Linked DNA regions of Homo sapiens. The protein of the gene in region 1 interacts with the protein of each later gene in a pairwise test. Each region holds a gene or a part of one and is shown on either strand. Other genes may lie near its edges.

The links. Proteins that work in one complex are often made in the same cells at the same time.
Region 2: the proteins of YAE1 (region 1) and CEP126 interact in a two-hybrid assay, tested with the Homo sapiens proteins (2 studies listed by BioGRID and IntAct).
Region 3: the proteins of YAE1 (region 1) and LTO1 interact in binary tests that used the Homo sapiens proteins (3 or more experiments, as listed by UniProt).

What each region holds. Positions count from the first base shown.
Region 1 is NC_000007.14:39,567,900-39,574,034, forward strand, and holds the end of YAE1 (protein YAE1 homolog), read left to right. Parts: intron 1-2,606; coding exon 2,607-2,728; intron 2,729-4,377; coding exon 4,378-4,807; 3' UTR 4,808-4,982; downstream 4,983-6,135. UniProt on the Homo sapiens protein: The complex LTO1:YAE1 functions as a target specific adapter that probably recruits apo-ABCE1 to the cytosolic iron-sulfur protein assembly (CIA) complex machinery. May be required for biogenesis of the large ribosomal subunit and initiation of translation.
Region 2 is NC_000011.10:101,994,351-102,003,060, reverse strand, and holds the end of CEP126 (centrosomal protein of 126 kDa), read right to left. Parts: intron 5,463-8,710; coding exon 5,418-5,462; 3' UTR 1,999-5,417; downstream 1-1,998. UniProt on the Homo sapiens protein: Participates in cytokinesis. Necessary for microtubules and mitotic spindle organization. Involved in primary cilium formation.
Region 3 is NC_000011.10:69,663,856-69,673,012, reverse strand, and holds the end of LTO1 (protein LTO1 homolog), read left to right. Parts: intron 1-1,193; coding exon 1,194-1,264; intron 1,265-5,000; coding exon 5,001-5,118; intron 5,119-5,425; coding exon 5,426-5,494; 3' UTR 5,495-7,450; downstream 7,451-9,157. UniProt on the Homo sapiens protein: The complex LTO1:YAE1 functions as a target specific adapter that probably recruits apo-ABCE1 to the cytosolic iron-sulfur protein assembly (CIA) complex machinery. May be required for biogenesis of the large ribosomal subunit and initiation of translation.

The DNA of each region.
Region 1 (6,135 bases):
ACTATGTATGCCCTTTAAGGAGTATGCTCTTTAAGGAGTAAAAATACACTAAGTGTACCATCCTGTTGATTTCTACCTGTAAGATACCACACAATATTAGCAGTTAGGAAAGAACAGGAAAATATGAAGTTTGTATCTTAAAATATAAAAATGTGTGGCGAAACCCCATCTCTACTAAAAATACAAAAATTAGCCGGGTATAGTGGCGTGCACCTATAGTCCCAGCTACTTGGGAGGCTGAGGCAGAAGAATCACTTGAATCCGGGAGGCAGAGGTTGCAGTGAGCTGAGGTCATGCCACTGCACTCCAGCCTGGGTGACAGAGCGCGACTCCATCTCAAAAAATAATGATAATAATAAATATATATATATATAGTTAATGATTTTGAAACATCAAGCATTACAGACTGTAAAATTAATTAAGAACTTTCTGTATATGATGCCAAAGATACATTTAAAACATATACAAGAAGATGCTTTTTCCTGAGTAGAATGCAAACTTTGTTTTATATTAACCTTCTGTGAATTTTCAAAATGTAAAATACCAGGACTTTTCCACATCAGACAAAAATCAGGAATGTTCACCTTCACATCCAAAAAGAAAAATTTTAAAAGACAATTTCAAGTAGTTCAGCAAGAATGATTTAAAATCTGAAATGAATGGCCAAAATTTTAAATTATCAACAGACAGTTCAATTTGATGGATCTCTCAGTAAACTTCAGTTTGAAACAACAACAAAAAATGCTGTTTACTAAATCATAAAAGATAATTCCAGGATATTATCCAATTTGAAAAATAAAAAATGTAACCCGTAATAAATAAGAAAAATACAAGAGAAAATCAACCTTTATTGGAATCGAGAGAATACCATGGACTTTAAAACTTCCTAAATCAGTAGCTTATCCTATATTACCATGTGTAGAAAACTGCAACTAATTAATGTAAGGTAGTTTTTATTAGTTGCATAACTTAAAAATATGAGGAAATTTTGGAATATATCTCTAAAACCACGGAATTGTCACTGAAATATATATTTCTTGAGACAGTGGGCAAAGTTCCCATTTATGGGAAATACTTTCCTTTTTTCACACACATGAAACTGAGAAAAATTATATCAAATGAGAAATATTTTTCTCTAAAATAATCTTAAGTACCCCAATAATGCAATACTGGGGAAATGTAAATTTTCAAAACTCAGATTTGAAACAGGTTATTATTAAACAAATATACATAAATCTTATTGTTTGGCAAGATTTTTCAAAAATTAGAGAACTAGTTAAACCACCATACTGTCCTTAAATCATATTTCAAACTTACATACCTAGTGCTTTTATGTTCTGAATGTAGAGTCTTCAATTTAATGACAATCTAGACTGAATGCTGTAATATACAAGCAAGTCACAGTTCACTTCAAACCAAAAGAAATAATCAGTCTTCTGTTTTTATCAAAATCATGATATTAAGATAACTATACAATTTATCTGTGACCAGTGATGGACCCAGAGAGTGTTGTGTTATGGCATTCTGTGGAAAGTCTTTGTTCCTTCTTTACTTTTGGCTTCTTCTTCTGAAACATCTTCTTTATCCGCCTCTTGTTCTTCCTCCAGTTTTTTCAAAGGTTGAGCAGATTCTGATAATTTTTTTGAAGGGTATGGCTGTGGTGTGTGCCTTTCTGAAGGACAAAGGCAACCTGCCACAAATATCATACAGAGTCCTAGTAACAGTCCAGAATGCAGAGTTGCTAAAGGAAAAACAGCATATGATCCCCACACTGGCAATCCAATGTCTTCAATAAAGTAGTTATGGCAAGTCCTGATCCACGTAGATAGCTGAAAGAGTGCTGACGTACTACTCATCTGAACAGAACCTGAAACAAACCATGATGAAACGGGTTCAATACTCTTCCACTCTTTATCACTTATAAAGTTTATGAAGTCCTTCTGAGTCCTTGGACCCTGAGGATGCCTAAATTCACCATCTTTACAATGATAAATAGTAGGAAGAACAGTTATTGTAAACTGTCCAGTCAGTCCTGGCTGCTCTGTGACATCTACTTTCACAACATTAACCTCAGATCTTCTCCCCATTCAGCAAAACTTTCCCATTCCGGTTAATGGTTTTGACAAGCAGGGCACCACGGGGCATAAAATTGTATCATCCAGCCTCCTTCCAGCAGCTCTCTCCAGTTCTTGTCTGTGATGATGCGTACGTTGCTCTGCCGCCTGTGGGTCCAGGGAGCACCCCCAAGCAACAGTACCAGGACTGCCAGCGGAACTGCAAGACTCCTGGAGGGTGCCATGTCTGCCGCTTGCCCACCTCACAGCAAGCGTGGCGGCCCAACACTAGGTTTTTTAAAAACTGTGACTATCAGTGTTTTAAAAATTGCCCGGTAACTCTAGACTTCAAAAGTGGGATAAGTAATGATAAACCAATAATAAACTTAGGAGAAGCATAGTCTGCTTTAGTTATATTGTTATGCCATATTATGGTCAGTAACACAGTAAAGGCCTAATTCATCTGCTTTCTAAATTGGTTCTGTACTTTTCTAGAAAAGCCTACATGTATATACTTAGTTACAGCTGCACTTCTCCATTACTTATTTTTAGGAAGGTTATAGAGATGGAATAGATGCTGGCAAAGCAGTTACTCTTCAACAGGGCTTCAATCAAGGTTATAAGAAAGGTGCAGAAGTCATTTTAAACTATGGACGACTCCGAGGAACATTGAGGTAATTTTTAAAGTCTAAATGCTGAATCATTTTAACCTCAATACTACTGGAGGATGTTTCTGTATAAATAAAGTGTTTAAACTGAAATGCTTTTCCTGGTGCTAAATACACTAAAGCGTGTCGCAGATCATAGAATTATATTGCCTTCAAAAAGTCAAAATCTTTATCAGCTCATCTACTTTAATGTGTGAACTACATATTGTCTTTTCGTGCAAAGAAATGGTAAGAAGATGTATACTTCTGCTACCTGAACAATTATCTATCTCATTGAAAGGTCTTCAGATTTTGAATAAAACTTGTAGTACTTCCACACAGTATGACAGACCTCTAGACTAGAAGTACATGATGAAAATAGTTGGTAATTAAGATAAAATTGATTTAATTTACTTTAGTCCTGAACATTGAATACTTGTCAGGATGCCATTGCAATAATGGCATATATCGGAGCCAAATGGTCAAATGATACACAGAGCCAGGAGCCTAGCAGCCTTGTCCAGTTTGATGCTCTATACCAAGCTTGTCCAACCAGTGGCCTGCATATCACATGTGGCCCAGGACGGCTTTGAATATGGCCCAACACAAATTCATAAACTTTCTTAAAACAATATGAGCATTATGAAATTTTTTTCATGATATTTTTTCTTTTTTCTTTTTTTTTTTTTTTTAACTCATCAGCTATCATTAGTGTTAATGTATTTTATGTGTGGCCCAAGACAGTTCTTCCAATGTGGCCCAGGAAAGCCAAAAGATTGGACACCCCTGCTTTATACCCTTTACACTGTCCTTGGTAGAGAAAAAAAAAATGCTTCAAAGAATCGCTAATTTTAAAGAAGAGTAGATGATAAAAGTTACCAAAACAAACCGAAAAATTTATTGTATTTGGGATTTTAGAAAATCCAACTATTAGGAACCAGAATTTAGTCTGCTACAGTAGGAAAACAATGTGAATATTCACATCATCAAGTTGATGTTACATAACCTTAGAAAGCTACTGCTGAATCTTTTATATCAATGGATTCTATTTTTAAATACTTTTCATAATAATCATTATTTTATGACATGACTATAATATTAAATCTGTTAGGACTAGAAGAATTTTTACCTTTTTCAAGGAAATTGTTAGTAGTTCAGCAAACAGTTTCTACTCTGTGACATAAGCCCAGGAAAGTGAAGTCTCTTGAAAACTTCTTTTCTCTAACCTTCATTCTTGATGGCAAGCAACTATGTGCTTAGAACGATGGTTTTCAACTTTGGTTGCACCTTAACTCTGAAACTTAAAAAAAAGATACCCCCTGAGATTCTGATTTAATTGGTGTGGAGTATAATCTGGGCCTTGATAGGGGTCAGAGCTCTTCAGGTGATTCTAATGTGCATCCATGATTGAGAATTGCTAGTTAAGAAGCTGTTTAATGTCCTTAAAGAAGAAACTAATTTTTCTTTCTCGGAGTTGTATTCATCTTCAACAGATATTACATAGTCATAAGAGAAAAATATAAAATCAGGAAAAGCGTATATAGAGTTATGAAAGAGGGGTTATGAATTATAAACAGTTTTATGATTAAGTCCAATCGTTTAATTGTTATTGAAAGATAGTCTTATATTTTTAAGTCCTATTTTGCTATTTAACCCTTGTTTATACTTTTGTTCAGTGCTTTGCTCTCCTGGTGTCACCTTCATAATAATAATTCAACTTTGATCAATAAAATAAACAATCTTCTGGATGCAGTTGGCCAGTGTGAAGAGTATGTGCTCAAACATCTGAAATCAATCACTCCACCGTCCCATGTTGTAGATTTATTGGACTCCATTGAGGATATGGACCTTTGTCATGTAGTTCCAGCTGAGAAAAAGATTGATGAAGCTAAAGATGAAAGACTCTGTGAAAATAATGCTGAGTTTAACAAAAACTGTAGCAAGAGCCATAGTGGGATAGATTGTTCATATGTAGAATGTTGTAGAACACAGGAGCATGCACATTCAGAAAACCCAAGCCCCACATGGATTTTGGAACAGACAGCCAGTTTAGTTAAACAGCTGGGCCTATCAGTAGATGTATTACAACACCTCAAACAACTATAAAATTACCTTCCCTTTTCTAATGAAAATAATGTTCAGAACATTTGGTTTCCTAACAATCGAAATTTGTACTGGTTTCTGCATCAAACACCTCAACTGTAGGGTTACCCTTTATGGAAGTTTGAAATTAACACTATTGTCTTCAAAATTAACACTATTAAATGTAATATAAGCCTTTTTTCTTTGTCACTGGTAATTTTTATGTAGTTTTAAGATATGGTCAGAAATTTCTACTGTCATTGACATTTCCAAACTTGTGGTCAAAATGAAGTGTTTTCAGACTCATTAGCAAAAGTGAACAAGAATTAAACATATTTTGTAAGGACCTACCCCTACTTCTACCTCCTGTCACTATTAGGTGGTCAGGACCTCACCAAACCAAAGTTATAAAAATAACTTAATAGTTAACGTAAATATAGACACACAGACAGATATATAGATATAGATATGTAGATATATATTGAAATTAAGAGACTGTGAGAAACTGAAGCAGTGTTTATGCTGTTGATTAAATGGTTAACAGCAAAATACTAAAATGTGTTTTAGTTTTGTGTTAATTAAAAGTAAGGACATTCAGTTTTATGAAAAACATAGAAAATATATTTTATGCTAAAGTCTAAGGAAAATGCCTACTTAGTTTTTCTAAGTAGTAAGGAGTTAGTAATATTGCCTAACAGTGTGCCAGATTATTTTAAACTGCAGTATATTTCATATTCACATAGGAGTAAAACACTGAAACCACTGACTTCTATATTACCTTGAGGTAATATTCTTAGTCTAGCATGGACAAAATTAGATTCAAATTTTTACTCCAGGATCTAAACTCAGAATCAGGAGAGGATTTCTCAGCACTTTTATTCACCTGAAACACAAGTTTATATGAGATACCTGACTTCAAAGGCACTGAAATAATTGTCCCTCATTGGTAGCCTTAATTGCTCTTTCACCCCTATTTATACCTACCATCTAAGCTGAAAGACAGGCATATTGAGATGAAGAATCTGACAAAGTATATCTTTTCAAGAGATTAAAAATGTACACTGTACTATGACCCTCCTCAAAGTTCACAGAAGAACATTAAGAAATTGAAGCAACAGATTTAAAATCAGAAAGCCATATTGAGTTTCAGGATTTATTAAAACCCCCGCTGAAGATACCAGTGCCATTTGACAGCTGGCTAAAAAAAGCTCTTCGATCTCTCCAGGTGTGAAGACTGTTTTTCAGAGATTTACTAGTTTGTCTTGTTAATATATGTTTCCATGTTTATGGACACAGCCCAAATCTCAACTCCACATGGAATATGGGTATTATAAGCAGCCTCTAAAGTCTTT
Region 2 (8,710 bases), on another chromosome or scaffold:
TTTGTTTAGAGACAGGGTCTCACTTTGTTGCCCAGGTTGGAGTGCTGTGGTGCAGTCATGGCTCACTGCAGCCTTGAACTTCTGGGCTCAAGTGATCCTCCTGCCTCAGTCTCCCAAGTAGCTAGGACTACAGGTACATGCCACCATGCCTGGCTATTTTATTTCAATTTTTATAGAGACTGGATCTTGCTATGTTGCACAAGTTTGTTTCAAATTTTGGCCTCAAGCAATCCTCCTCCCTCGGCCTCCCAAAATGTTGGGGTTATAGGCGTGAACCATCGTGCCTGGCCTTGGTACCTTATTTTTGAGAGCCCCCAGCTAAATTGGGGTTCCAATATCAGAGTAGCTAGCAACCCTACCCCAACAGGATATGAAGGGGAGATGGATGTGGGTGTTTACAGTGTGCCTTTCATGGGATACTTCTTTTACCTGGAGGATGGCCTAAGTCCTAGTTGCCTGACCTGACTGGGGGTCCCTCACATGGGAAACTTGTTTATACTGGCAGATGCCCTTGTGGCTCTTGTCTGATCCATGTCCAGTTTATGCCTGCCTGACCATCACTTTGGCACTGGGAGTTCAACCTTGTGCTCTCCCTGGTGTCCCCTGGTTCTTCAGATGGAAAGCACAAATTCAGTACATCACCACAATAGGAAATAAGTTCAAAGATTTTCACTTACAGATCCTGGGCAAGGAGGGCATAATGAGTCAGGAGGGCAGTCCTCTGTCCCCAGGTCATATGAGGCAGAAAGGAAGAGCCAGAGAGAAAGTGTGTCTAGCAGCATGTCTAAGGGAATGGAGTGTGGGCCACTTTAATAGGCAAATGTCTAAATGGTCCATTTAAAGAGAGGCAGGAAAGCAGGGAGTGCAGTCCGCAAGGCAGGAGAGATCCCTCTAAGTTCTTGTCACTGGCCACCAGCTTGAGCCATCTGGGTGTAATGTAGAACTGGAAATTGTGCCAAAGATGACTGAGCCCTGCTTTGGTATGAGAAAGTTAAACTTGTATTCAAAATGGATGCTGAGCAACATAAAATTGTAAGAATTCTCTATATATCTCCGACATCAATCCAGCACCAAAAGTTTTATTCTAATATTCCCCCTTTCTGGGAAAGGCAAAATAATAGAAACAAAATCCAGATCAGTGGTTGCTCAGGGCTGTATGAAGGAATTTTTGGCATGATAGGGCTGTTCTGCATGGTACAGTAGTGATGGGTATACAATGCTATGCATATGTCAACACCTACACAATTCTACAAAGAGTGAATTTACTGTATGCAAATAGGAAAAACATCCAGGATGTTGGAAGAATCCAACATGGGATACAGATTGTGACAAATGAATCTAAACTGTATTAAAATTATTCACTTGGTAAACTATCACTCCTGCAATCCTAGCGACTCAGGAGGCTGAGATGGGAAGGTGGTTTGAGGCCAGGGTTCCAGTGTAGCCTGGGCAACACAGTGAGATCCTATCTCCAAACAAAAAAAAAAAAAAAAAAAAAAAAAGAAAAGAAAAAGAAAAAAAGCTAGGCATTGCCATGCATGCCTTTAGTCCCAGATACTGGGGAGACTGAGGTAGGAGGATCTCTTGAGCCCAGGAGTTCGAGGCTGCAGTGAGCTATGAGTATGCCACTGCACTCCAGCCTGGGTGATAAAGTGAGACCCCCAACTCTTAAAAAACAAAACAAAAACCCACCACAGTGAAGGGGGTAGAGAAGAAGGAACTGGCTTTAGTGACTTTGGAAAACAGTGTGTTGACTGAATAAGTAAGATTGGGGATGAAAAGAATGATAAAAATGCTGTACTTTAGTTAGAAATCTGTTTCTCCTAGGTATGTGGATTAGCAATTCTGAAGCAAATTTTCATGTATACTAGAGTTAAATTAGTGCCTGTATTGTGGCTAATGAGTGTCAGGTTTCTCAATGTCAAAGAAAATACAAACAAACATTTTGGGAATTTTTATATTAAAAATTTACAGTTATAAAAACCAAATCACATTTAGTTATATATTTAATGAATCATTTTTATTGCAAAGGGTAAATTACATGAAATTGACAAAATTTAGTCCATGTAATATCTATCAAAATACATACATGTAAGTGTGTGTATATTTATATATGTATACAGTACAGTTTTCACAAAAAGCTTCAACATTCCTAAGAAACACAGACATAGTCATTCTGGTACAATATGGATTTAAAATAAGTTCATGGTAATCCTTCCTGATGCCAATTTTAAAATGAAGACCGTCTAAATTTTTCTGACCAGTTATTAGTTGCCCTGCCTCTCGGAAATGTGTTTAAACTTTTCTTTCAATTATTTGATACCTTTTGCCCAAGAGATTACTATCTCTCTCTTTTTTTTTTTTCTTTTAAGACAGAGTGTTGCTCTGTCACTCAGGTTGGAGTGCAGTGGCACAATTCCTGATCACTGCAACCTCTGCCTCCCAGGCTCAAACGATCCTCCCACCTCAGCCTCCCCAGTAGCTGGGACCACAGGCACATACCACCAAGCTTGGCTGTTTTCTTTTCTTTTTGTATTTTTAGTAGAGTTGGGCTCTTGCCATATTACCCAGGCTGGTCTTGAATTCCTGAGCTCAAATGATCCACCTGCCTCGGCCTCCCAAAGTTCTGGGATTACAGGTATGAGCCAGCATGTCCGGCCTGAGATTACTCTCTCTTATAAGAAGTTTCATAAGTTTTTCCACTGAGGAAAGTGATGCTTGTTTGATTTCCTCTAAATTTACTTCTTCACATTCGAAAGGAGACTCTTTTCTTCCTTAGAACTTGAAGATTCAGTGTGAAAGGGCATTTTTCTTTCTTATATTATTAAAAAAGTTACTTTTTAAAAAGTAACATTTTTATTTTTATTTTATTTATTCATTTTTGTGAGACGGAGTCTTGCTCTGTTGCCAGGCTGGTGCAGTGGTGCAATCTCAGCTCACTGCAACCTCTACCTCCTGGGTTCAAACGATTCTCCTGCCTCAGCCTCCTAGTAGCTGGGAGTAGAGGTGCGTGCCACCATGCCCAGCTATTTTTGTATTTTTAGTAGAGACAGGGTTTCACCATGTTGGCCAGGATGGTCTTGATCTCTTGACCTCATGATCTGCCTGCCTTGGCCTCCCAAAGTGCTGAGATTACAGGCATAAGCTACCGTGCACAGCCAACATTTTTATATTTTATATAGAGATGGGGTCTTGCTACATTGCCCAGGCTGGTCTCAAACTCCTGGGCTCAAGCAGTCCTCCTGCCTTGGCCTCCAAAGTGCTAGAATTACATGCATGAGCCACTGTGTCTGGCCAAAAATGTTAGTTTTCACGTTTATAGCATGCAAAGTGTTATTCTCTTCCACTTTAATTCACAAAGGCTCTTTATGTCTTCCCACTTTTATCACTCTTAATGAACCCACCCTGTATCTACTAAAATTCTGGAGGAGTCATGGGCAGAATTACAGAAGAATTCTGGTCATATGACAGTTTCATAAAAGGACAATATCATAATGTGCAAGTTCTAGTAAAATGCAAATCTTATCTTGTTTCACCAGCTTACTATTTAGGCTTTTTTTTTTTTTTTTTTTGGCCTATTCTGACTTTGGATCTTAACTATTTTCAACTATCTTTTTGCTTGTAGAGGCATTCTTTGGTTCCTAAGAGGTATTAAAGTGAGGGATTACTAACGGTGAAGCTACTTTGGCATGCAGGATGCTGCTGTGTACATATATACTAGTGTATATGAATATAAACCCTTGTCTTTTTTTTTTTTAATAAAAGTGAGTTTTCATCTGAGGTGCTTGGAATGATTCACAAACAACTTGGCACACTCTTCTGGCCTGTTTACCCCCATTGAAATGTTATTTTATAAATTACATCTTAATTCACAGAATTTTTTCTTGATAGTATAAGAAATTCTCAAATATTTTCTATAGGGGCACACAACTTTCTATTTAAATGTCTAAGAACTAAATTTTCTGTCGCCTTCCGAAATCCTATTCTTAAAATTAAAAATATAGGAAAGCACAAATGTTTCCTTCATTAGGTCAATTTTTTCACTAATTTCTTCATTTAAAAAGTGAATTCTTTTCCTGTTTTTCCTCATTTCATCCAATAGTTTCCATTTCTACTAACATGGTGTGGCAGAAAGAACATGGGTTTTGGAACTAGATAAACCTGAGTTTGAATTTTGATTCTGTCACTGTAGGTAGCTATGTGGCCTTGGCTCAGTTTCTCATCTCTAAAGTGGAGACAAAAATACCCATGGTTTGGGTGGCTGGTCAGATTAAATAAAAAATATATGCACAAAATTTGGTACATGGTAGGCATTCAACATGTTAATGCATTTCTCACTACATCAAGTGTTTCAAAACTAATTCTATGGAGGAACCAAAATTTAGTAGTGTTATTAATAAAAGGCCACATGTTTTCTTAAAACTCTTAATTTCTAATTTTGATTCATCACTTTTTTTTTTTTTTTTTTGAGGCTGGGTCTCACACTGTCACCCAGGCTGGTGTGCAGTGGCGAAACACAGCTCACTGCAGCCTCAACCTCCCAGGTTGAAGTAATCCTCCTGGGCTCAAGTAATCCTCCCGCCTCAGCACCCCAAGTAGCTGGGACTACAGGTGCATGCCACCATGCCTGGTTAATTTTTGTATTTTTTGTAGAGACAGGGTTGCCCAGGCTGGTCACGAACTCCTGAGCTCAAGCCATCTGTCTACCTCGGCCTGCAAAGTGCTGGGATTACAGGCATAAGCCAACGGCCCTGGCTTGATTCATGGCATTTTAATGAAAAATTTCATGTTTTTTCGGTATGCCAAAGTGCCATGTATGAAATATGAAATTTGGAAGAATCGATGTAATTGTACAGCCATAGGAAGGCCTCCCTTCACCATACAAAAAGGTAACCTTTGCTCTATTGCTGCCACCAAGGGCCATTTTGTGGGATGTGGTAACTTTAAGAATATTTATTACAATTAAAAAAATCAAAATATGCCATACTTCATAAACATCTTATCAGTAAGTTAGAGGTTTAATAAAGAGGTTCAATAAACAGAAATTTTATTTAACATATATTTCAACATGAAATCTATAAATTGCAAAGGAGCACTGTGAATTCTTTGGAAAAACGTTTGTTTGCTCTACTCACAAGCTTCATCCTTGTGGCATGTATTCAGAGCTAGGTTATGTCCTGCTTTTTGTTTAGGCAGGCATAATGTCTTTCATGGTATTCTCAGAACTCTGTTAAACTTCACTGCTTTGTTAAATGTCACTGCTCTGTTAAACTTCACTGCTCACAAAATCTGAGTTAGGACAAATGTTCATGGGGGTTGTTGCTCACATGTTTTCCTATGGCTGGTTTTCACAAAACGGTATGCATCTAGTCCTAGGGAAGTACATGAAAGGTCTTCTTAGACGGATTCTGCTGGAATTATCTCTTGTCTCTGCAGCTGCTGGTTCTATCTTCTCTCTTCTCCTGGAAATCAGAAAGAAGAAACAAGCATGCAAACACATGCCAAAACACTGCAGCTACAAACTAGGCTGACATGTCAAATAGTGGCATATTCAACACATCCTGACATCATTCTCCCAGGTAATGAGTTTAAGATTGCAGAGGACTTTATAGATTATTTACCTCAACCCTTACATTATGTTCATCAGTACCTTTCTACTCTAAAAGGTAAAATTCCCACTTTGAAAATGTGCAGTTTTACAATATCATTAAAAATTCAGGTTTCAGGCTGGGCACAGTGGCTAACGCCTGTAATCCCAGCACTTTGGGAGGCCGAGGCAGGCGGATCACGAAGTCGGGAGTTCGAGACCTGCCTGGCCAACATGGTAAAACCCTGTCTCTACTGAAAATACAAAAATTAGCTGTGTGTGCTGGCACGTGCCTGTAATCCCAGCTGCTCGGGAGGCTGAGGCAGGAGAATCCCTTGAACCTGGGAGGCGGAGGTTGCAGTAAGCTGAGATTGCTCCACTGTACTCCAGCCTGGGTGACAGAGCAAGACTCCGTCTCAAAAATAAATAAATAAATAAAAATTCAGGGTTCAAAGTGAAATGATAAATTCTAATTTATTTGAACCTGCATTTAAAGCTCTTTATTTAAAATTTTCTTCTAGATAAATTCTGGGTACCAATAAAACTCTATAGTGTTGTATAGCAGAAATGGGAGTTCTTGGGGGTGAGCTTGTGAAAACAATGTCCGACGGAACTAATGATGAAAGGGCCTGGAACCCACATAGTTAGGCACGCCAGAAGGAAACCTATGGGAACATTAGCCCCTGCTTCCCTCTCCAGTTTTTTCTCTCCCTCTTCATCCTGAATCTGTTTCATTTAGTCCTTGGAAGTTCCTTTCTCCTTTTCAGTCTCTGAAATAATATTCATTTGGCTAACTCTGAAGCTTTTTTCAGAACTCAGAATGTTGTTCATTTCCCATATGTTCATATGCCTGTGAAGTTAGTGCTTTTTACACTGATTTATAAGAGACCGCTTATTTTTATGTTTCCTCTATCAGACCGTATCCATCAGGAAAACAAAGCCATTATAAGAATTATGGGACTAAGGTACTTATCACAGGAATTACATTTTACCAAATATAGGAGCTGGGAAAATGAGGGTCTGGAAAAGGAAAATTGAAGGATCAGAGTATATGGGGCAAGGGATAAAAATGTAGCCTGCTCTACTGTGGCGTGCCAGTCAGGATCAGAGAAAGGATGACTGAGCAGGCTGTTTGAAGCACTGGTGTGGGTAAACAAATTGAAGCTTGCAGGGAAATCTGATAATCCAAGCATGCCCAAGCTGCTGAAGTGGAACTATGAAGGGGGAGCTTGCTGGGGAAATCTATGGAAACTGCCGAATGTGGAACGACTCTGCTTTTCTGAAGCTACTGTCTTCAGGTCTGCAGCCCAGTGCCTGGTGGTCGGCCTAGGGCTGCTGTTGGTCAGCAGGGCCTGTAGTCATGAAGATGCTATAGAGTGGAGAGGAGTGAGCTGCTGGGCACCTTTGTATTTGTCCATCACTGACTAACCATGATGATCTTCTAACAATAATGGCTTCTGACCACTTCTGCCTTCTTCTTTTGTGGCCAAAATTTCTAACTGAGAAATGTGAATCCTAGCCTTAGCAAAGTTGGCTATTTTGTGCTCATGATGTATTTTTAGAATGTAGCAAAGTTTCTGGCACATAGACGGTACTTAATATTTAATAAACGGAAGAAGAAATGGAAGACCACTTATACAATGCAAATGAGAAGCAAAGCAAAATTTGTCAGAGACATGAAAGTATTTCATAAATCTCTTTCTTGACTATAATAGTTAATTCAACATTTATGTAGTACTGCTGTTTTATTGATAGATTGGTGACTAAGAGAAGTCCAGCAAAAGAAGAATTTGTCAGTGTATGTCCAGTACTGTCAATGGGAGAGGGTACTTGGACTGACTACTTCACTGGCTTTCCTCATCAGTGCAGGCTACACTTTGATCCCCTTCCCCACGAACTCCCAGATGGACAAAGGACAGGGGACCAGGAAGGGTAGGTGACTTTCTTGTTTGTCATCACTGTTTCTAGACCAGTGTTTCTCATCCTTCGCTTCCCATTTGAATTCTTCAGAGAGCTTAAAAATATCTAAATGCCCAAGCTGCCCTCAGGTATGACCCAGGCATCAGTATTTTTTAAAGCTCTCCATGTGATTCCAATGTGTATCCATGTTCATGTTTCTATGTGAAGTTAGTGCTTCACATAGAACTAACTTGTGTTTCAAAGTTAGTTAGCAGCATTGGTATTACCTAGTCTCATCCCAGACCTACTACATTAGAAAATGTATTTACCAAGATCTGTAGGTGGTACAAAGTACACTAAAGTTTGAAAAGTGCTGTTCCAGATCATTTTTACCAGAACCCAGTGCCAAGGCAAAAAATAAAAAAAAAGATTCAGTAATGTCTAGTTTTAACACTGCATGTTCTCACTCGTAAGTGGGAGTTGAACAATGAGAACACATGGACACAGGGAGGGGAACATCACACGCCAGGGCCTGTCGGGGGTGGAGGGCTAGGGGAGAGATAGCATTAGGGGAAATACCTAATGTAGATGATGGGTTGATGGGTGCAGCAAACCACCACGGGACATGTATACCTATGTAACAAACCTGCATGTTCTGCACATGTATCCCAGAACTTAAAGTATAATTAAAAAAAAAAAAAACTCTCAAGACACAGAAAAGATATGGATACTTACCGATGTACACTTCTTAGCAGTTTTTCAATTAGGATACACATCTAAAGTTATTTGAAGATTGGTACACTAATACCTGTTTCTGCTCCCATGACTGATGAAAATACTCTGAATATAAAAATGTTTATATTCTGTAGATAGCCCAGAAATAATGTTGTACTCCTATAACCATCTGATCTTCAACAAGGTTGACAGAAACAAGCAATGGGGAACGGATTCCCCATTCAATTAATTGTGCTGGGATAACTGGATAGCCATGTGCAGAAGATTGAAGCTGGACCCCTTCCTTATACCATACACAAAAACATCAACTCAAGATGGATTAAAGACTTAAATGAAACCTAAAACTATAAAAACCCTGGAGGATAACCTAGGAAACACCATCCTGGACATAGGCCTTGGTAAAGATTTCATGATGAAGACATCAAAAGCAATTGCAACAAAAGCAAACATTGACAAATGGAACCTAGCTAAACTAAAGAGCTTCTGCAC
Region 3 (9,157 bases), on another chromosome or scaffold:
CTGACCAACATGGTGAAACCCTGTCTCTACTAAAAATACTGAATTAGCTGGGCATGGTGGTGCATGCCTGTAATCCCAGCCACTTGGGAGGCTGAGGTATGAGACTCGCTTGAACCTGGGAGGCAGAGGTTGTGGTAAGCCGGGACCGTGCCATTGCACTGCAGCCTGGGCGACAGGATGAAACTCCATCTCCAAAAAATAAACAAAAAAAATCACAGTGCCTTTGCATGGGAGTTAATGGACTAGATGGACTGTTGCTGGAGAAATATTCTTAGTACAGAACCAAGAGTGCATTTTGCTGTAGGTAGATACAATTAAATTATGCATGCTGGATAAAAGAAAACAAGTCCCTGGTCTCCTTAGTTTACTTGGGAGTGTCATGGTGCTGGCTCATGTACTAAGCCAAAGAATGGGTGCCCTCTGTCATGTGAACATATTCCATTTATGTTTACGTTGAAATTTCATTAACTTTATGATTTTTTTTTTTCTCTTCTTGCCCTTTGTCCTAGATTGGCCCTTACAGATAAGTGGCCCTTAGTGGCAAAGTCTGAGTTGAGGCAGTTATGACTATATTGGATGTTCGATGCTGTGAAACAGATCACCACAAAATTCATGGGCTTAACACAGCAAATATGGATGATCTCACATGTTTCTGAGGGTTGGGAACTCAGGAGCAGCTTTGCTGGGTGGTCCTGGCTCAGGGTGTCAGCCAGAGCCGTGTCACCTGAAGGCTTGACTGGGCTTGGAGGATCTGCCTCCAAGGTGGTGCTGTCACCTGACTGTGGGCATGGACGTCTCCATGGGGCTGCTTGTGTGTCCTCGTGACATTCAAGAGCGAGTGGTCCAAGAGAGCTGGTGAGGCAAGTGACACTGGCTTTTATCCCTAGACTCAGGAGCTTTGTGCTGTTCCTCCACATTCTGTTGGTTACGAAAGCCACCCTGGTGGAGTGTCGAGGGACCTGCACAGGGCATGGGTACCAGGAGATGAGGACTGGGGCATCTGGGAGGCTGGCTGCCCCACCGATGACCTAATTTCCTAATTTCCATTGCCTAATGCTCAACAGGTGCTTCCAGAACAATAGTGTGAGAAGCACCGCTGCCTTCTGCCCCCACCTTTTGTTTTGAGATCTTGGTAATGAAAGTGTAGCTAGTTGCTTATTAATTTCACTCTTAAATATTTTTCACATTCACAGATCGGGTGCTACCAAGGTTTTGCTTTTGCATGGAAATGTCTACTGCACAGTTGCACCACTGAGAAGGACAGGTAAAGGTGGAGATGTCTTTCTTTCTCAGCGTAGGAACCAGGAGTTCTAGTTCCATGGGTTACCAGCATGCCCTTGAGTAATCAATCTGTCTGTTCCTCATCTGTAAAATGGAGAAAATTATCAGTGTCAAGCTTGAGTGTTGTTAGGAGATTTAACGGAAATACTAAATAGAAAGTGCCAGGCACATTTTAGGTGTTTGGTGAACACTGGCTGTTGTTGCTTCTCAAGAGTTCTATGCTCCTGCCTTTTACCTGGAGTCATTAGTGCACCATGTGGCTTTTAGATACCCTACCAATAAAATAATGTTGACATTGATTGTATTTTCTCATTCACCTTTCCCCTGAGCTTCTAATAAACAAATTATAACAGTTTTGTATCACTTGGGCTCAGAGATGAGGACACCAGTGTCATCAGTTTTTTAATGTAGCCAACTAAGTCTGTTAACAAGAAAATGCCTTTAAATGTGTTTAACTCCTTTCTGGAACTTGTCAACACTCAGTAAGTGTTAGCTGTCATTTGAATTGTTTTTAGCCTTTAAAAACTCTTCTCGGCCGGGCGCAGTGGCTCACTCCTATAATCCCAGCACTTTGGGAGGCCGAGGCGGGCAGATCACGAGATCAAGAGTTCGAGACCAGCCTGGCCAATATGGTGAAACCCTGTCTCTACTAAAAATACAAAAATTAGCCGGGCGTGGTGCCATGTGTCTGTAGTGCCAGCTACTCGGGAGGCTGAGGTTGAAGAATTGCCTGAACCCAGGAGGCAGAGGTTGCAGTGAGCTGAGATAATGCCACTGCGCTCCAGCCTGGGCGACAGAGCAAAACTCCTTCTCAAAAACAAACAAACAAACAAAAACTCTTCTTCCTGCATTGTACTTACTGAAGCCCCATGTGACCCTGCTTTATCTATCTTCATTCTGAAGCTGGAAATGAACCCTTGAGATGGTTTGGATACTCTGCTGTTCATGGGCAGCAGCAAGCGCGGGACCTGAGCTGGTGCTCTGCGTCATTCTGACACCTGGTGGCCTTGCCTAGCGTGGGAGGGGCACAAGGAGAGTGGGTAACTCTCTCCCTGACTACGTGACTTGTGCTTTTATTTGAAATATCTTGAATTTCTAGAAATACCTTGAATATCTTGAATATTCAAATGTTTAAGAATGAGGATGCTTGCAACTGATACGGGTAGTTCTTTCTGCTCCGTTTGTACCAGCAGTTGGGAGTCGATGGGATTCTGGGTTAGCAGAGGGGCACTTGAGGACATTTTCCTCCTGGTTCTCAGGCAGCGGCCGGCAGCTGGGGATCCCAGGGGAATCGCTGTTGGCAGCCTGTGCTACCACTAGGTGGCAGTCAAAGCTGAGCCTGGCTCTCAACTCCAGGCCACAAAAGGATGTGTGTTCTTGGAGTTCTCCGCCTGTCTCCCTTCTCCCACAGCGGCAGAATCTGCCGGCTCCTGGAGAAGTGCTCCGCTGTGTGCCAGTGGTCCCATCCCAGGAGGTTGCCAGCCCTTACCCCAGAGCAGGGGTTTGCTGACGTCTGAAAGCAGCACACTCAGTCTAGCTAACAGAGAAGAACCGCTTTGGTTGACGAGGGGCTGGTGGAAGCCCTGCCAGACCCCCCTCGCAGCCGCCCTCATCCCATCCAGTAGTACCCAGAGGTCTCTTTGGAACCTAAGGCTTTATTGTAGAGCAGTGGTTCATGGATGTTTAGATCTTACATGTCAGGTTTTTTTTTTTGTTTTTTGTTTTTTTTTAAATGGTGAAGGGCTGATATTGCATGTTTTACCTGTAAATTTTTCCAAATAAGGATGTTAAGAGAAAAACACCTGCCACCGCATTGTCATTCAGCAAAATGCTGGGCATTGTAACACCAAAGAAACCACGGAGAGCGGCATCTCAGGCCAAAAGATGGTGCTTTCCGTTGAGTAACTAGCTTTCCGGTAAACTGCGTGACACTTCTGTCCCCGGCTTCAGCAGTCTGGTGAAACCCTCCTGCAGACCAGCGCGCACCGGGGCTGAGCACGGGGGCTCTGGCACCATCACTTTTCTTTCATTAGCCCTGAGCTGCTCACACCTGCCTGACGTGTGCCGCCTCTGATGGTGCGCCCGGCTGGGTGTGTCTGAGCAGCATCGCTGACCAGAAAAGTAACCGCTTGCCAAGTGGAAAGTGCGTGGTCCTCTGCATCGGGTTAGCATACAGCCACCTCCCACGTTTTGGCATCTCCCTTTGGTTTCCCTGGAAACCAGGTGCTTTGTTGCTAAAACTGACTTGCTTTGACCTTTCACAGTTTTGTATTTTCTCAGAGAGGTAGCCATGGTTAGCTCTTGTAAACTGGATGCTGCTGGCAAACTTGCTCTTCTCTGTATCCAGGAGCACCAGCTGTTTGCAAGTACACAGGAGGTCTTGGTTGCTTTGAATTGCTGTTGATTCATCCTAACTGTCAGTTCTTTAAAATGCCCGTTAATCGAGTATCTTGCCTACTCTGGCCACTCACATGGTCCAATGCGGCATAGAGGCAGCATGCTTCTCAGGACCACCTGTGGTTCATTGAAAAGACCTGGCCCCACGAGATGTACACATGTGTGGATTATTTTTAAACCCCTGCAGGTGAGAGCCCTGATCTCTAGGATCCAGAGGAAACCAAGAGACCAAGAGACTAACATTTATTGAGCACCTACTCTGTGCTGGAGTCCAAGCTTCATGTCAATTTTTTTTTTTTTTTTTTTTGAGACGGATTCTCACTCTGTCCCCTAGGCTGGAGTGCAGTGGCACAATCTTAGCTCACTGCAACCTCCACCTCCCAGGTTCCAGCAATTCTCCTGTCTCAGCCTCCCGAGTAGCTGGGACTACAGGCACACACTATCACGCCCATCTAATTTTTGTATTTTTAGTGGAGACAGGGTTTCACCATATTGGTCAGGCTGGTCTCGAACTCCTGACCTCAGGTGATCCACCCTCCTCGGCCTCCCAAAGTGCTGGGATTACAGGCGTGAGCCACCGAGCCCGGCCCATGTCAGTTATTTAATCCTCTTGAAAGTCTGTGAGGTTGCTGTTACTCTCCCCATTAAAAAAAAAAAAACAAAACAGAAATTAATTTCTCACCATCTGGAGGCTGGGATGCCCCCCATTTTACAGATGAGGCCAGCAGGGTTGAAAGCAGGTAGAGAGGTGTTGGGGAGATGTCATGCCCAGGGCTGCTGTCTCCTGAGTGCACAGCCTTTCTGCAGAACCTCCTTGCCTCCCCAGCAAAGCTGTTTCCTCCCTGGGGAGGGGACAGTACTGATTTCCGCCTTTGGAGGGAGGGGTTTGCTGGTTTACCTGCAGCTGAACTTTGGAAGGCTTTGAGCACAAAGAATCCAGATCCTGGAAAATCCCCAGACCCAGAGCAGGCCTGCTCGTGCCCAGCCCCAGTCCCTCTTGCCCAGTTCTGTCTGTTTCTGCATGTGTGACCTCGAGAGTCAGCAGGGCTTCTGGCTGCCTCAGCCCCTTGGCCCCGTGGTCGGAATGGAGGCGTGTCTGTAAGCTAGGCACACACTTGCTGTCGAGGCACTGGGTATGGGCCTAAGCTCGTTGCTAGGTAAATAAATATGATTTCGTGTAATGAGAAAATAATCATCCAGCTTTTGAACGAAGGCATTCTTAGCGCACCTGCTGGGTTTCAGGAAGCCAGCAGCATAGCTGTTGTGTAAGTTGAGCCTGTTGTGTGCACATGACTGAGAGTCTGTATTTCTGTGCTTTACAGCAGAAAGATGAAGGTCTTAGAATCATTGATTGGAATGATCCAGAAATTCCCTTATGATGACCCTACTTACGATAAACTCCATGAAGACTTAGACAAGATCAGAGGAAAATTTAAACAGGTGCGTGCACTGTGTGTTTCCTCCTGCTAGGAGCACCTGATTGCGCCTTTCCCAGGCGGGGCAGCGCACTCCCGGGGCCGCTGCGGCAATGGCCTGGGGCTGCGTGCGCCGCGGAACTGTCCGTAGAGGCGCCTCATCCTTGAGTCGCAGTGCAGGAAAACTGAAGACAGTCCAGAGAAAAGGAGTTAGAACTCATTTATGGGCTGGCCACATAGACAGGAAAAGCTATAGCTAGAGATAGAGTTATCTTCTCATTTTTCAGTAAAAATGCACAAGATTAAAAATACCATCTCTTTTGTGTTTTCAGTTTTGTTCGTTACTCAATGTTCAGCCAGACTTTAAAATTAGTGCAGAAGGTTCCGGACTTTCATTTTGAGGAGGATGGATGAACAGAGACCGAACGTCGAGGAACAGATGTGTGTGTGACGTGTTTAGAAATGCGGTGAAGGGCCAGACGGTGCTGGGAAGGCAGTTGTTCATTGGGAGGGTGAGGGTTCCGGTTCGGCCGTGGGAGGGCTTCCTTCCCTGGGGTTTTCTGCCTGTGTCACCTTGGTGCCCGTCTTGGGGCCTCGCCACACATGCCCTTTGTTGGGCTGAAGCCGTCCCTGGCAGAGCCCTCGTGCATTGACTTGACAGCCTCTCCGGCAGCACAGGCCTAGCTGGTTCTGGGTTGGAGTTGGCTCTGGATAGGGTCAGTCACCAGGCCTGGACTGAAGGCAGTTATTTTTATTATTATTATTATTTGCAATGAGAGAGATGGTTGGCCCCGAATGAGGCTCATGGGAGGTTTGGACGGGTGCTGTGCCGCATGTCGAGGCCGATTGTGTGCCAGGCGGTGCGGGACGTGCCTCCCGTGTGTTATTTAATCCCTTCAGGAGCCCACAAGATGGGTGTTATTCTCATTTTACAGAGGAGGGAGGGGAGACGCGAAGGGATTGCCTGGTCTAAGGGCACCCAGCAGCAGAGCTAGGACTTCCGCCCTAAGGCTGTGCCTCACTGCCACCAGGCACAGCCGCCTCCGGAATGCACAGGCGAGTCCCTGCCCTCCCTCCCAGGCCGCACAGGTCCTGCCAAGCCTCACGGAGCACGGGGGAGTCTGTGGTGGCCAGTTTACCTGGGCATCTGGCTGAGAGGAAGAAAGGCCAACCTGATCCTGAGGGGACCCAGACATATCCTTTGCACTGTCCCTAGAGGGGCGATGAGCTTTGCAGCATTAAAAAATGGTGAAGGGGGGAAATATTTTGAACCAAAGACCAAATGTTAGGCCGCCGTTATATTTGCAGAAGCTTTGAGAACCATGCGTATAGCCTCCTGCATTCTCCCCTCTCCTAGGAGCTCTTTTGTCTCTGTCCTTACGAGGCGTCATACAGAGGCAGTGGGGTGGGCACAGATGAGCAGAGTGGATGGTTCGGTGGGTCCCCACGAGGCGAGTGGTGGTCATATGTGATGGCACGTGTTCACACACCCTCCTGTGTACCCCCCCAGGGTCACCGAAGTCCCCACACGCTGGCTCTCCACACCCCTCCTGTTCCAGAAAGCATGTCCGAAAGCAGTCCAGGAGATTATTAAGGGGTCGCCATGAATCCACTTTGGTTTTAAAACCATTCCCGAATGTCCTAGTGGATTGTGTTGTGCTGCCTAAGCTGCCGGCTGCAGGAGCCAGAGAAGTGACCCCCGCGGGAGCAGCGGCAGGTGGATCTCCACGGTGGCTCGCTTTGTTTTTGTTTTGTTTTTTCTTTTAAGACGGAGTCTCACTCTGTCGCCGAGTTTGGAGTGTATTGGCGCGATCTCGGCTCACTGTAACCTCCGCCTCCTGAATTCAAGTGATTCTCCTGCCTCAGCCTCCCTAGTAGCTGGGATTATAGGCGCCCCCCACCACGCCCAAGTAACTTTTGTATTTTTAGTAGAGATGGGGTTTTGCCTTGTTGGCCAGGCTGGTCTTGAACTCCCAGCCTGAAATGATCCACCCACGTCCACCTACCAAAGTGCTGGAATTGCAGGCATGAGCCACCACTCCCGGCCTGCTTTTTGTTTTTGAAGACAGGACTTAGGTCTCCTCCTCCCGAACTCTAAACCTGCGTGTGTGGCTGTGCACCGCTCGTTTGTAGCGTCACCTCAGGTCTGGGGAAGTCTGTGCTGGCATCTCCTCATTGTGCCTTCATCAGAGCTGGTGCCTTCGGGCCAGAAAGACTCTCGTTCTTTCTAGATGGTGGGATCAGGGGCCTTTGCTGTGTTTCCCTTGGTGGATTTTTGTGTTTTGTAAGTTGTCTATTTTGATAATGTATTATTTTTATAACTGTAAAAAAAGTAAATAGCATATTTTAAAGTGAAAGTTTGGGACCATTTATAACACAACGTCATTTATAACACGGCATCATTTATAACACAACATCCAGCCAGTTTATTTCTTCCTCCAGGGCATTTAGGATCTGGATATGAAGGAAGACATGGGCCTTAGATTTCTGCCAGCTTGTCTCCTTAACCTAGCGTAGACACAGCCACTGCGAGAGTGCTCCCATTGTGTTGGGGACTGGTCAGCTCCTGCTCACCTGGCCCAGCCACCTGTCAGCAGCTATTACTAATCCACCCTCCCCGAGACATCTCTATGCCCACTGTCCCCCACCTTCTCTCCCTTCCTCTCCTCTTTTTTCTTCTCCCGTCTCTGTCTCCTGTTCTCTCTCCCTACTCCCTCTCTGCCTCTTTGGCACAGCTGGCTGAGCAGCATACTGCCACTTCCTCCTCTGGTTTGCCTCACATGGGAGCCAGGGCTGCCTCCTCATCTTCAAGATTCTCACACACTCTGCTGACCTACGCCTGCCTGGCCCCTTTCTAGAGGACGAGACCCAGTTTCCGGGAGCCCTTGGTCACCGCCAACATTGCAGTATGGACAGAGCCCACTGTAACAGGTGCTTCCGTCGTATCCAGGCAACGCCATCCTCAGCTTTTACACTGGGAATGAGCATGTCTGTGTCTCCTCTTCTGCTAATGAGGTGTTAGTAGAGGGTCCGACCAGTCCCCAGCACAGTGGCCCACTCTTAGAATGGCTGTGTCTGCTGGGTTAAGGAGATGAGTTGGCAGAAGGTCCTCCGGGGGCTTCTGGGAAAGGTTACGTCATTCCAAAGAAAAGGTGCTGGTGCTATTTTGGACATCATCCTGTTGGGATGCGGCAGCTAGAACTGCTCCAGGCATCTTGCAGGCTGGCTACAGCTGAAGCCACCCCTGAGCCTGGCAGAGTGAAGAGCTAGGAAGAACCTGCGTCCTCGGTGCCACTGCTTGCTGTTCCCACCAGCCCTGAGCCACCTTGCTCACACCTGTGAGCGCTACCCGTCCCAGTCCTGCAAGGCTGTGGCCCTGGGTGTCCGCTGTTTGCGGACAAAGTCTGCTTGCTGTCTTCCCCATCCCTGCCAGGCCCATCCCGTCCCGCTAGTTCCAGACATCAGCCTTTGTCCAGAGTGGCTTTGAGTTTGGGAGCTCCTGGGGTTGGATTGCATCCCTTGCGGTTGGTTTCCCAAGGCTCTGGCCTGCTCCTTCCTTCCTGTCAGAAGCTCCCAGCGTGTCGTCTGCCACTGTCTCAGCTCAGGCTGCCACCACAGCACCACTGATGGGTGGCTTCAACAGCGGTCCATCTTCTCTCGGTTCTGGAGGCTGGAGTCCGAGATCAAGGTGTCACAGGGCTGCTCCCTCCTGAGGCCTCTCTCCTTGCCTTGCAGACAGCTACCTTCCCCCCGTGTCCTTACGTCTTTCCACTGTGTGTGTCCTCATCTCTTATAAGGACCCCAGTCAGATTGCATTTGGGCCCACCCTTACAGCCTCATCTGAACTTAGTTACCTGTTAAAGACCTCACTCTCCAGTCACATTCTGAGGCACTGGGGGCTAAGGCTTCCACACAAGTTTTGTGGGGACACGGTTCAGCCCCTCACAGGACCCTGGCTGTGGCTGCTGGATAGACTGCTGAATTGGGACTCGGGAGAAGAGAAAGCCATTTCATGTAAAAGTTGAAGTTATTTCAATTAGTTTTTTCTAGAATGTTAACATCTA